3 linked regions of the Homo sapiens genome follow. The protein of the gene in region 2 purifies or fractionates together with the protein of the main gene of each other region. This does not show direct contact. Each region holds a gene or a part of one and is shown on either strand. Other genes may lie near its edges.

What was found.
Region 1: the proteins of ACIN1 (region 2) and PRPF6 purify together in Homo sapiens (co-immunoprecipitation; 2 studies listed by BioGRID and IntAct, with this or other methods). This does not show direct contact.
Region 3: the proteins of ACIN1 (region 2) and LUC7L2 purify together in Homo sapiens (affinity purification with mass spectrometry; 5 studies listed by BioGRID and IntAct, with this or other methods). This does not show direct contact.

The regions. Positions count from the first base shown.
Region 1 is NC_000020.11:63,984,107-63,987,854, reverse strand, and holds part of PRPF6 (pre-mRNA-processing factor 6), read right to left. Parts: intron 2,949-3,748; coding exon 2,830-2,948; intron 1-2,829. UniProt on the Homo sapiens protein: Involved in pre-mRNA splicing as component of the U4/U6-U5 tri-snRNP complex, one of the building blocks of the spliceosome.
Region 2 is NC_000014.9:23,060,501-23,064,248, forward strand, and holds part of ACIN1 (apoptotic chromatin condensation inducer in the nucleus), read right to left. Parts: coding exon 3,605-3,748; intron 3,078-3,604; coding exon 2,936-3,077; intron 2,575-2,935; coding exon 2,429-2,574; intron 2,024-2,428; coding exon 1,916-2,023; intron 1,776-1,915; coding exon 1,668-1,775; intron 1,123-1,667; coding exon 798-1,122; intron 685-797; coding exon 584-684; intron 1-583.
Region 3 is NC_000007.14:139,357,508-139,361,255, forward strand, and holds the start of LUC7L2 (putative RNA-binding protein Luc7-like 2), read left to right. Parts: upstream 1-2,386; 5' UTR 2,387-2,754; coding exon 2,755-2,815; intron 2,816-3,748. UniProt on the Homo sapiens protein: May bind to RNA via its Arg/Ser-rich domain.

The sequences.
Region 1 (3,748 bases), on a different chromosome or scaffold from region 2:
CTGGTCTCAAACTCCTGACCTCAGGTGATCCACCCACCCTCAGCCTCCCAAAGTGCTGGGATTACAGGTGTGAGCCACCACACCTGGGGGCATAGCCTGCAACTTTAATCAATTTGTCAGTTCCAATAGTGTTTTGGTAGAGTCTTTAGGGTTTTCTAAATATAAGATCATATCATCTGCAAACAAGGATAATTTAACTTCTTCTTTTCCAATCTGGATGCCCTTTTATTTATTTCTCTGGTCCGACTGCTCTAGCTAGGACTTCCAGTACAATGTTGAATCACAGTGGTGAAAGTGGGCATCCTTGTTGCGTTCCAGTTTTTCCCCATTCAGTATGATACGAGCTGTGGGCCTACCATATGTGGCTTTTTTTTTTCTTTGCGACACAGTCTCATTGTGTTGCCCAGGCTGGAGTGCAGTGGCACAATCTCAGCTCACTGTAACCTCCACCTCCTGAGTAGCTGAAATTATAGGCCTGAGCCACCACACCCAACTAATCTTTGGATTTTTAGTAGAGACAGGGTTTTACCATGTTGGTCAGGATGGTCTCAAACTCCTGACCTCAAATGATCTGCCTGCCTGGGCCTCCCAAAGGGCTGTGATTACAGGCGTGAACCACCCCATCCAGCTGTATATAGCTTTTATTGTGTTATGCTCCCCCCCCCTTTTTTTTTTTTTTTTTTTTGAGACAGGGTCTCGCTCTGTGGCCCAGGCTGAAGTGTGGTGGTATGATCTCAGCTCACTGCAACCTCTGCCTCCTGGGCTCAAGTAATTCTCCCATCTCAGCCTCCTGAGTAGCTAGGACTACAGGTGTGTGCCACGAAGCCTGGCTAATTTTTGTATTTTTTTGTAAAGAAAAGGTATTACCCTCTTGCCTAGGCTGGTCTCAAACTCCTGAGATCAAGCAGTCCTCCCGCCTCAGCCTCCCAAAGTGCTGGGATTACAGACGTGAGCCACCACACCCAGCCTGAGGTATGTTTCTTCTATATGCAGTTTTTTGAGAGTTTTTATCATCAAGGAATGTTGAATCTTATCAAATGCATTTTCAGAATCAATTAAAATGATTAGGCCGGGCGCAGTGGCTCACGCCTGTAATCCCAGCACTTTGGGAGGCCGAGGCAGGTGGATCATGAGGTCAGGAGATCAAGACCATCCTGGCTAACACAGTGAAATCCCGTCTCTACTAAAAATACAAAAAATTAGCCAGGCGTGGTGGCGGGCAACTGTAGTCCCAGCTACTCAGGAGGCTGAGGCAGGAGAATCACTTGAACCCAGGAGGTGGAGGTTGCAGTGAGCTGAGATTGCGCCACTGCACTCCAGCCTGGGCAACAGAGCGAGACTCCGTCTCAAAAAAAAAAAAAAAAAGATCATATGGTTTTTGTCCTTCATTCTGTTGATATGATGTATAACACTGATTAATTTGCATATGTTGAACCACCCTTGCACTTGTATCCCCTGGGCAAAATGCCACTTGGTCATGATGAACGATCTTTTTTTTTTTTTTTTTTTGAGATGGAGTCTTGCTCTTGTCTCCCAGGCTAGAGTGCAGTGTTGTGACCTCGGCTCACTGCAACCTCCACCTCCCGAGTTCAAGCGATTCTCTTGCCTCAGCCTCCCAAGTAGCTGGGATTATAGGCGTACACCACCCACCATGCCCGGCTAATTTTTGTATTTTTAGTAGAGACTGGGTTTCACTAGGTTGGCCAGACTGGTCTTGAACTCCTGACCTCAGATGACCCATCATCCGCCCACCTCGGCCTCCCAAAGTGCTAGAATTACAGGCGTGATCCACTGCGCCCAGCCGATGAACCATCTTTCTAATGTGTTGTTGAATATGGTTTGCTAGTATTCTGCTGATTTCTGCATCAGTGTTCATCAGGGATACTGACCTAACATTTTCTTTTTTCAGTGTGTCTTTGTCTGGTTTTGGTATCAGGGTAATACTGGTTCTGTAGAATAAGTTTGGAAGTATTCCCTCCTCTATTTTTCAGAATAGTCTGAGTAGAATTGGTATTAGTTCTTCTTCAAATATTTGGTAAAATTCAGCAATGAAGCAATCAGATCCTGAGATGTTCTCTGCTAGGACACTTTCTGTTACAGCTTTGATCTCATTACCTTTTATTGGTCTGTTCAGGTTTGGGATTTCTTCATGGTTCAATCTTGGTAGCTTGTATGTGTCATTTAACATCTTTAATTCATTTGCAAATTACTCAACATATAATAATCAAGTCAGTAGGCCCTTTTCATTTCAAAGATGGTAACCCTGATGTATCGTAAAAGTAATCCACAAAATTCTGCTGATTTCTGGAAAAACTTAAGAGTTCTTAAGCTCTCCACTGCAGCCCCCAGGCCCTAAGGCTGTTCTGTAACAGCCCAGTGCTTATCCAGGCATGGCTACGACAGACCAAGACCCTCAGGTGGCCTAAAAGCTAAGCAGACACACATACTCTATTGCAACTTTTCTCCAAATATAAAACAATTCAAAACAAAACTTTTTTTTTTTTTTGAGACAGGGTCTCACTATGCCAACCAGGCTGGAATGATCATGGCTCACTGCAGTTTCTACCTCCTGGGCTTAAACGGTCCTTCCACCTCAGCCACCCAAGTAGCTGGGACTACAGGTGTGTACCATCTGGCTAATTTTTAAATTATTTGTAGAGATTAAGTCTCCCTACGTTGCCCACACTGGTCTCAAACCCCTGGGCTCTAGCTATCGTCCTACCTCAGCCTCTCAAAGTGCTAGGATTACACACGTGAGCCACTGCGCCTGGCCACAAAACTTTTTTTTAAACTTGGATAAATATTGTGAAAGGCAACAATTTCTTTTACCGTCTTTCTTTTCTTCTTTCATCCATCCTTTTATCCAGGGCTGCATAGATAGCATCTGCTTCCTCATCATCTTTCTCGTAGGGTCCACTTGAGAAGAGGCTCCCAGCATAGCCATTAAACTGAGAAGCAAACAACACGTGTAGAGGTCAGCTTTTCCTTCAACACCATCCCCACCAGCGAAACGGAGATCTCTACTTGTGAAATACTTGCTAAATTATTTTCTTCAGCCAACGAAGCCAAATCAAGGGACAGTCTACCATATAACTGGTGACTACTCTTCAAGCGTCAAGGGCATGGAAGACAGAGGAGACCCCCAATTGGAAGGGACCAAGGAGACATGACGAAATGCAATGGGGGATCCTGGACTAAGCCTAAGCCAGAAAGCGGACATTCATGGAAAAACATGAAATGCAAATACGACTGACAAATTAGTTAATAGTACTGTGTCAATGTTAACTCCTTCGTTTCAATAACTGCACTAAGGTCATGTAACATCGGGAGAAGCTTGGTGAAAGACATGCAGAAACTTTTTTTTGGGGGGGCACTATTTTTGCAAATTCCTGCAAATTTAAAATTATTTCAAAACTAATTTTTTTTTTTTTTCTGAGACAGAGTCTCGCACTCTCGCCAAGGCTGGAGTGCAGTGGCGCAATCTTGGCTCACCGCAACCTCCGCCTCCCGGGTTCACAGCATTCTTCTGCCTCAGCCTCCCGAGTAGCTGGGACTACAGGCACATGCCACCATGCCCGGCTAATTTTTGTGTAGTTTTAGTAGAGACGGGGTTTCACCATGTTAAACAGGATGGTCTCGATATCCTGGCCTCATGATCCGCCCACCTCGGCCTCCAAAAGTGCCAGGATTATAGGTGTGAGCTACCGCACCTGGCCTCAAAACTAAAATTATTTTTAAAAATTTTCCT
Region 2 (3,748 bases):
TCAAGTTCTTTTTTTTTTTTTAATTGTCTGAGACAGAGTTTTGTTCTTGTTGCCCAGGCTGGAGTGCAATGGCACGGTCTCTGCTCACTGCAACCTCCGCCTCCCGGGTTCAAGCAATTCTCCTCCTCAGCCTCCCAAGTAGCTGGGATTACGGGCGCTTGCCACTGCACCCGGCTAATTTTTGTTATTTTTAGTAGAGACAGGGTTTCCATGTTGGCCAGACTGGTCTGCAACTCCTGACCTGAGGTGATCCACCCGACTCGGCCTCCCAAAGTGCTGGCATTAGAGGCGTGAGCCACCACGCACGGCCTAAAATCAAGTTCTAAGAAGCCTGGTCGGCACAGCCAGCTTCCCAGACATCCACAAACTTCAGCTGCTATCTGCGTGTCTATCTTTACCCTCCTGAGTCTGGTTTCTCTATGTTATACCAATTAACTGAAAACTGCCTTTTTGTGATGCTTAGTTTATCCTAAACCTAGGAAGTACTTGGGCCGACTCACTCTCGCAGTCACATGAATCTCCCCTCACCCTGACCTCAAGCCTCAGTGCCACTAGGGAGCAGGGCACGAAGAAGAGCACTCACCTGGCTGTCAGTCAGTGGGAGCCAATAGATGCAGGGAGCTGCCTTGGTCTTTCGGAAAAGGTCATCCAGCAGCTTGGCAGGTGGTTCCTCCTGGGCTTTCTCTGAGGTGGAAAAAAGTGAACCAGATATGATGCATCTGACCCTCTGTCCCATCCCATCTGGGTCCCTTTCCCACCTACTAGTGGGTATGCGTACCCCATAGCTAAGTACCTACCTTTCTTCTCACTCTTCTTTTCTTTAGACTTCGCACGTTCCTTGCGGCGGCGGTCACGGGACCTTGATCGGGAACGGGGCCCTTCTCGAACTTTGTCCCGATCCCATTCACGCTCTGATCGAGTCCGCTCCCGCCGCTCCATTTCCCGTTCCCGTTCTGCCCACTGTTCCCGCACTGCCCGTTCCTGCTCCCGCTGCTCTGCCCGGGGGTGCTGTGGTGGCTGGACCGGGGGTGGGGGTGGGGGGTGCAGGGGCCGTGGTATTCCCTGCTCCTCTGTCTTAGTTTCAGAGGGACGGTCCACCAAGAGGCCTCGGTGATAATCCAGCTGTGGGGAGAGGAGGGACAAGGACAGTTAGGATAGAGGTGATATCACTCCCACTCAAGGAGCCAGGATGGCCGGGCGCGGTGGCTCACGCCTGTAATCCCAGCACTTTGGGAGGCCAAGGCGGTCAGATCACGAGGTCAGGAGACCGAGACCATCCTGGCTGACACGGTGAAACCCCGTCTCTACTGAAAATACAAAAAAATTAGCCGGGCGTGGTGGCGGGCGCCTGTAGTCCCAGCTATTCGGGAGGCTGAGGCAGGAGAATGGCGTGAACCCGGAAGGCGGAGCTTGCAGTGAGCTGAGATCGCGCCACTGCACTCCAGCCTGGGAGACAGCGAGACTCTGTCTCAAAAAAAAAAAAAAAAAAAAAAGGAGCCCAGGTACCACTTTGAAGCCCCATGGTACAATTAAAGGAACCAAAGCCAGGGAAGAAGAGAAAAGAACAGAAGCTCAGAGACTGCAGGTCTGGCAAGGATCTCAGCTGAAATCTAGCAGATAATGGCTTCCCCTGCCCCTCCTCTCTTTCCTCTCCCTAGGTTTCTTACCTCATCTTGCTCGGCATAGTCAGCACAAAGGAATTTGGGATTGGACTGGGGCCATTTGACCCCGTGCAGAGCTGTGCGGGTGGCAACAGCTTCCTCTACTGTTGAGTACTGGTGGAGGAAGGGAGAAGATGGAGGGTCACAGTGTGTCTGCAACCCTTCCCACGTGCTGCAACACCCTTAAACCTGCCCACACTGGTCACAAAAGGAAATATATGCCATGACCTATAGAATCAGCTTCTTCCCCTCACCGTTACAAAGCAATGAGATTTGATCTTGTCAATCCAGAAGGCCTCTTCCACCAAGGTTCCTGTGCGCCCCAACAACTCCTTTAGCTGGCCTAAAGTGAAAGGACGGACCTGCCAATGAAAATAGACTTTCAGGGTCTAGCAGAAGGCAAGACCACCACCCAATCTTTAGATTTCCCGAGCTGCTGTCACAGGAGTATAGTTTCAAGGTTTGGGGGAGGGCAGAGAGTTTAGGAACCTTGCAGTAAGAATGTGAGAAGAGTGGTGGTGCTTCCCAGCACTAATTGAGACGTTGTATGTGAGGCCTTCTGCAAGTCCTCAAAACAACCCTGCAGGGCAACAGCTTTTCCCCCTCATTTTTAGATGGGTAAATATGTTAAGTAACTCACTCAAGATCAGTGAGTAACTTAATCTATTGGTAGACCAGTTCAACTATGAGTGGAACCTAGGAGGCATAAGCCTAAAGCTCAAACTTAACCACTAAGCAAGCTGGGATGGTGAGAAACAATGACTTACCAAATTGGAGATATGGACAATGTTGCTAATCTTGCCCCGGGGTGGGGAGGGCACCTGGGCAGTTCGGACTGGGTCATCAATGGTAATGGAAACTCCGGACTTCTGCTGGCTAATGGAACGTCGAGTTAAGGTATCTCCTAAAGTCACTATCAAGAAGACCACAAGAACAGCTTTTGGTAGGAAGCAATACTGGCTCTTTTCACCCTCAATGTAACTCTCACGGTTCCCTTTCTTTTATACCAAGCAGCCACTCCTTAATCTAAACGTGCAGAGCACCTATAATCTGCAAAGTACTGTGCTAGGCTAACCTCCTCATCATGGAGATTCAAAGATTAAACAGAGTCAAATCTGGCCCTCAAGTAGCTTACTTAATATGTAGGAGAAAGATATGATATACGAAAAAATATAATGAAAGGCAGGAAACATTCAAAGCTTTCAGCGATCCAAATGAGGTGCTCTGAGAATTCAGGGAGCCGCATTACATTTCTCTCACAATATGTCACTCACCTTTCTTTACTTCATGCTCTGCAGGTGGGGGCAAGGCCACCTCTACTGACACCTGGGGAGGTACAGGAGGTTCTGCTTCAGGTTCCTTCTCTTCTTCCTCTTCTTCCCTCTGCCCATTCTCCTGGCCCTCTGCAGGTACTACCTATCAAGGTGTCAGAGAACACAGCAGGTCTGTTAAACACCAAACTGGCATATTCTTTTCAGCCTCTGGTTCCCCGGTAAGAGTAGCAGTCAATCTAGCATGTTCCTTCCGCTAGGGGTATTTCGTTATCGGCTCACTTCTACCAGATCCTGGGATTGTTAGTGCCTCAACTTTGCCTTGAGGAAAACTAAGACAGGAGTTAGTAAATTTTTTCTGTAGAGCAAAGCAGTACTTCAGGTTTTGCAGGCCACATAGTTTGTTGCAACTACTCAACTCTGGTGATGTTGTAGTGAACAAACAGCCACAGACAAAAGTGAATGAACTCGTGTGGTTGTGTTCCAATCAAACTTTATTTGTAACAGGTAGCCAGCTGGATTTGGTAGTCTGACCCCTGAAAGTGTCAGTCAACCCAACCCTCTGCACAGACAGGGAAGTTCCCTCCAAAGACTTTATCTCAGCTCCTCAGCTAGCTGCTCTGCATCTACTGCTCCCACCTTTCCCCTGACACTGGGGTGCAGAAGCCTTACCTGAGTGACTGTCCGGCATATTTTCAGCCCCTTGTCATGGGTCCCATCATCGCCATTACGCTCTGTCTCATCCTCAGAGATGCGAGAGTCATCAGCATGAAGATCCACAACAGCCTCCTGCCCCGCCAGGGGTTTGATGTCGGG
Region 3 (3,748 bases), on a different chromosome or scaffold from region 2:
CAGGGTCAGATCACATTGTGTACATAATAGTGTATCCCTCAAAGACATATTAATTTGCACATTTTTCTATTATTATAAATCAGTTCCCAAAGGATATCCTAGTATTTGGAGTTTGGAATTCAGAGTTCTCTGAATAACTGAAGAGAAGCTATTTTGTGTATTACTAAAGATAACTTGATTCAAAATAATTTTTTTTTTTTTTTTGAGATGGAGTCTCACACTCACCAGGGCTGGAGTGCAATGGCGCGATCTCGGCTCACTGCAACCTCCGCCTCTTGGGTTCAAGCGGTTCTCCTGCCTCAGCCTCCGGTGTAGCTGGGACTACAGGCATGCGCCACCACGCCCAGCTCATTTTTTCTATTTTTAGTAGAGACAGGGTTTCACCATGTTGGCAGGCTGGTCTCAAACTCCCGACCTCGTGATTCGCCCGCCTCGGCCTCCCAAAGTGCTGGGATTCCAGGTGTGAGCCACTGCGTCCGACCTCAAAAATTTTCATTGGCCCAATACGCATTTATTTTTGAGATAGAGTCTTGCTTTGTACCCAGCCTGGAGTGCAGTGGCATAATCTCGGCTTACTGCAACCTCCACTTCCCGGGTTCAAGTGATTCTCCTGCCTCAGCCTCCGAGTAGCTGGGATTACAGGCACGCGCATCCATGCCCGGCTAATTTTTGTATTTTTAGTAGAGATGGAATTTCACCATGTTGGTCAGGCTGGTCTCGAACTCCTGACCTCAAGGTGATCCGCCCGCCTCTGCCTCCCAAAGTACTGGGATTACAGGCATGAGCCATCCCTCCCAGCCGCAATATACATTTAAAGGAATTTTGGGACTATTACTACTATTCATGTTTTTTATTGATCTGCTAATAACAGTTCCAAGGCGATGAGTATACAGTGTTAATGGAACACAAATCTCTATTATTTCCTTTCAAAGTATCCAGGAAGTGCCTGTCTTCTTAAACATTTGATTTTATTAACTCATTCTTCTTACAGTTTTAAATTTCTTTTTAGGCGATGAATATACAGTGTTAATGGAACACAAATCTCTATTATGTCCTTTCAAAGTATCTAGAAAGTGCCTGTCTTCTTAAACATTTGGTTTTATTAACTCATTCATTTTTCTTACAGTTTTAGATTTCTTTTTAAGCAACCTTTCTTCCTGCACACTGACCTATGTCTTACTTAAGGAATTTTTTTTTTTAGAAGTCTCGCTCTGTCGCGCAGGTTGCAGCGCAGTGGCGTCATCTCGACTCACTGCAACCTCCGTCTCCCGGGTTCAAACGATTCTCCTGCCTCAGCCTCCCGAGTAGCTGGGGAGGCGCCCGCCATCACGCCCGGCTAATTTTTATATTTTTAGTAGAGACAGGGTTTCACCATGTTGGCCAGGCTGATCTTGAACTCCTGACCTCAGGCAATCCACCTCCCTTGGCCTCCCAAAGTGCGGGGTTTACAGGCGTGAGCCACCGCGCCCGGCAAGGAATTAATATTTTACTAAAACAGTTTTTAGAAACACCAGGGAAAGGCTCAGGGCTAAGTATTTTATTCCAGTTTGTTCTAACAGCCACGCCATAGCAGACGTGTGACCACCTCCACCAGCCCTACGAGGGGTAGAACTGAAGCCAAGGCCCCAGTCACGGGCCGGGCTTCAGAATCCAGGCTTCCCTGCGGCCAGCGCCGCTGGCTCCCTGCTCCCCGAGATCGCCTCCCCAGTAGCTGAGAATACGCTGAGTTTTTATGGTTTCACATTCAGACTAAGCCGCCCGCGACCTTGTAGGTAAAGATGAATCCGAATGGGTCGGCGCGCCTGTTTCCTAGGGTACTGCTTTCGGGCGCTTTCTCCTGAAGTTGACACTTCCCAGCCGAGGAGCCTTAAAGCCCCACGCAGCGGAAGGAACGCGGCCCCGGCGGCGGCGAGACAGGCCTGCTCCCGGCCGGGAAAGGCGCACGAGAACCAGGACGCGTCCACGCCACTCGGGGCGGGCGTTCGCCCCGAGCACGCCCACCTCAGACGCCAAGGAGGCTGACCGCAGTCCGGTCGACGATGGGCATGGTCTCTACTTACTTTCCGCCCAGGCTAACCTCTAGCGCATTTTGCTAATTTGGGTCTGAATCGCCATCACCGCGGGCAGCGCAGCCTTAGCCGCCAGCCCTACAGCCGGGAGGGAATGTAATGTAAGGTTTGGCGCCTCGGGGCGGATCCGGCTTGCACAGTCAGTTAAGGAACCAGAGTATCGCGAGATCCGGGGTAAAGGGGCGGGAGGAGCGCGCGTGCACGCGCCCAGAGCCGTTAGGGTGGAACTCCACTCGGGCGGGGCGGGCGGAGTGATACAGCTGGACGCCAGTTGGTGGAGCCCCCGCGGGAAACGACTGAGCGCGAGGAGCGTGCGCGCTCCCGTCGTGGCGACGGTGGCGGCGAGCGGCGTCAGAGCTTGAGGGGGGGTTGACGGCTTCTGGCGGGTGGCGGTGTTGAAGGCGAGAGCTTGCTTGGCCCGTGTCGCTTCTGTCCCAAGAACCGGACGGAGAGTGAGGGCACGAGGGTCGCTGTCGGGGGCTGTCGTCTTCCACGTACACGTCGTCGTGAGGAGCGCAGTCCGGACTCTTCCCGCAACCCCTCCGGCTCCCTTTCCGCACGCCTCGAGGCGGCGGCGGCCACCGAGACAGCAGCGCACCTTCCCCCATCCCTTCCCCTTATCCCCCAGCCCAAAAGGGCCCGGTCTGCGCCCCACCCCCGCCCGTCCGCCCGCTACGCCGCCGCCATGTCGGCGCAGGCCCAGATGCGCGCGATGCTGGACCAGTTGATGGGCACCTCCCGGGACGGTAAGTCTCTGCCAGGGCCCTGGGGGTGGGGGAGGGGACGGGGACGGCGAAGGGAAGGGGTTCCGAGGGCGCACCTGGGCGCGCGCGTGTGGCTGAGTAAGGGGCTCCCAGATTGGTAACACGAGGTCCCCGTCCCCCGTCCCATCCAATCAGGGCTCGGCAGGCGGGCAGGGGGGGCGGTGACCATGCGGATTGGCGGGAACTGCTGCCAATGGGGTGAGGCGGGGCCTGGAGGCAGAAAGGAGAGTTTGTGCTTTTAATGTTGACTTGGCTGAGACGGGAGAGCCCGCGTCTCTGTTGCGTAGTTGGGGGGCCCGTTTTGTCGCTGGTTAGGTACCTGCGGAAAGCTAAGGCCTCCACCCCCGATATAATTCCTTAACCCAGAGCTTTGGGATCATCCCTCGCCGCCGTCCTCCAGAGTACCTAGAGAGAAGCTTCCCCCTCCTCTTCCTGGGTCAGGAGGAAACCTTTATTACTAACCCAGTCTCAGAGATGCACCCTCGAGCCCCACAGAAACAACCATTTTTATGGAAAATCTGACCCAAACCATGGTTTCTTAAGTGGGTGTGTTTGGCCCCATTTTGTGAGAAGGAACATGTTATGGCCTGTTTTTCCGAGAGACCTCCATTTTGTTAGACAATTTAATAGAGGCTTTGTTCAGTAAATATTGACAAATGTTGCATGTCCCTAACAGAACGATTTTGAAAATTTGGTACCCAGTGAAGTAGAATAGAGGAGAACAAAGATCCTTTCAGGCGTTTAGTTTAGAATCTGTATAGAGAGCCCTTAATTGCTGGATTATCCTTTGTCATAAAGAGAATTTCTAAATAAAATGATGAAATGCTGTTGCTTTTTTGGTGATGTTAATTAGTAATGTACTCTCAAATTCAACTTAAATACATTCAAATATGTAGGAAAGGTCTAGTTCATTAC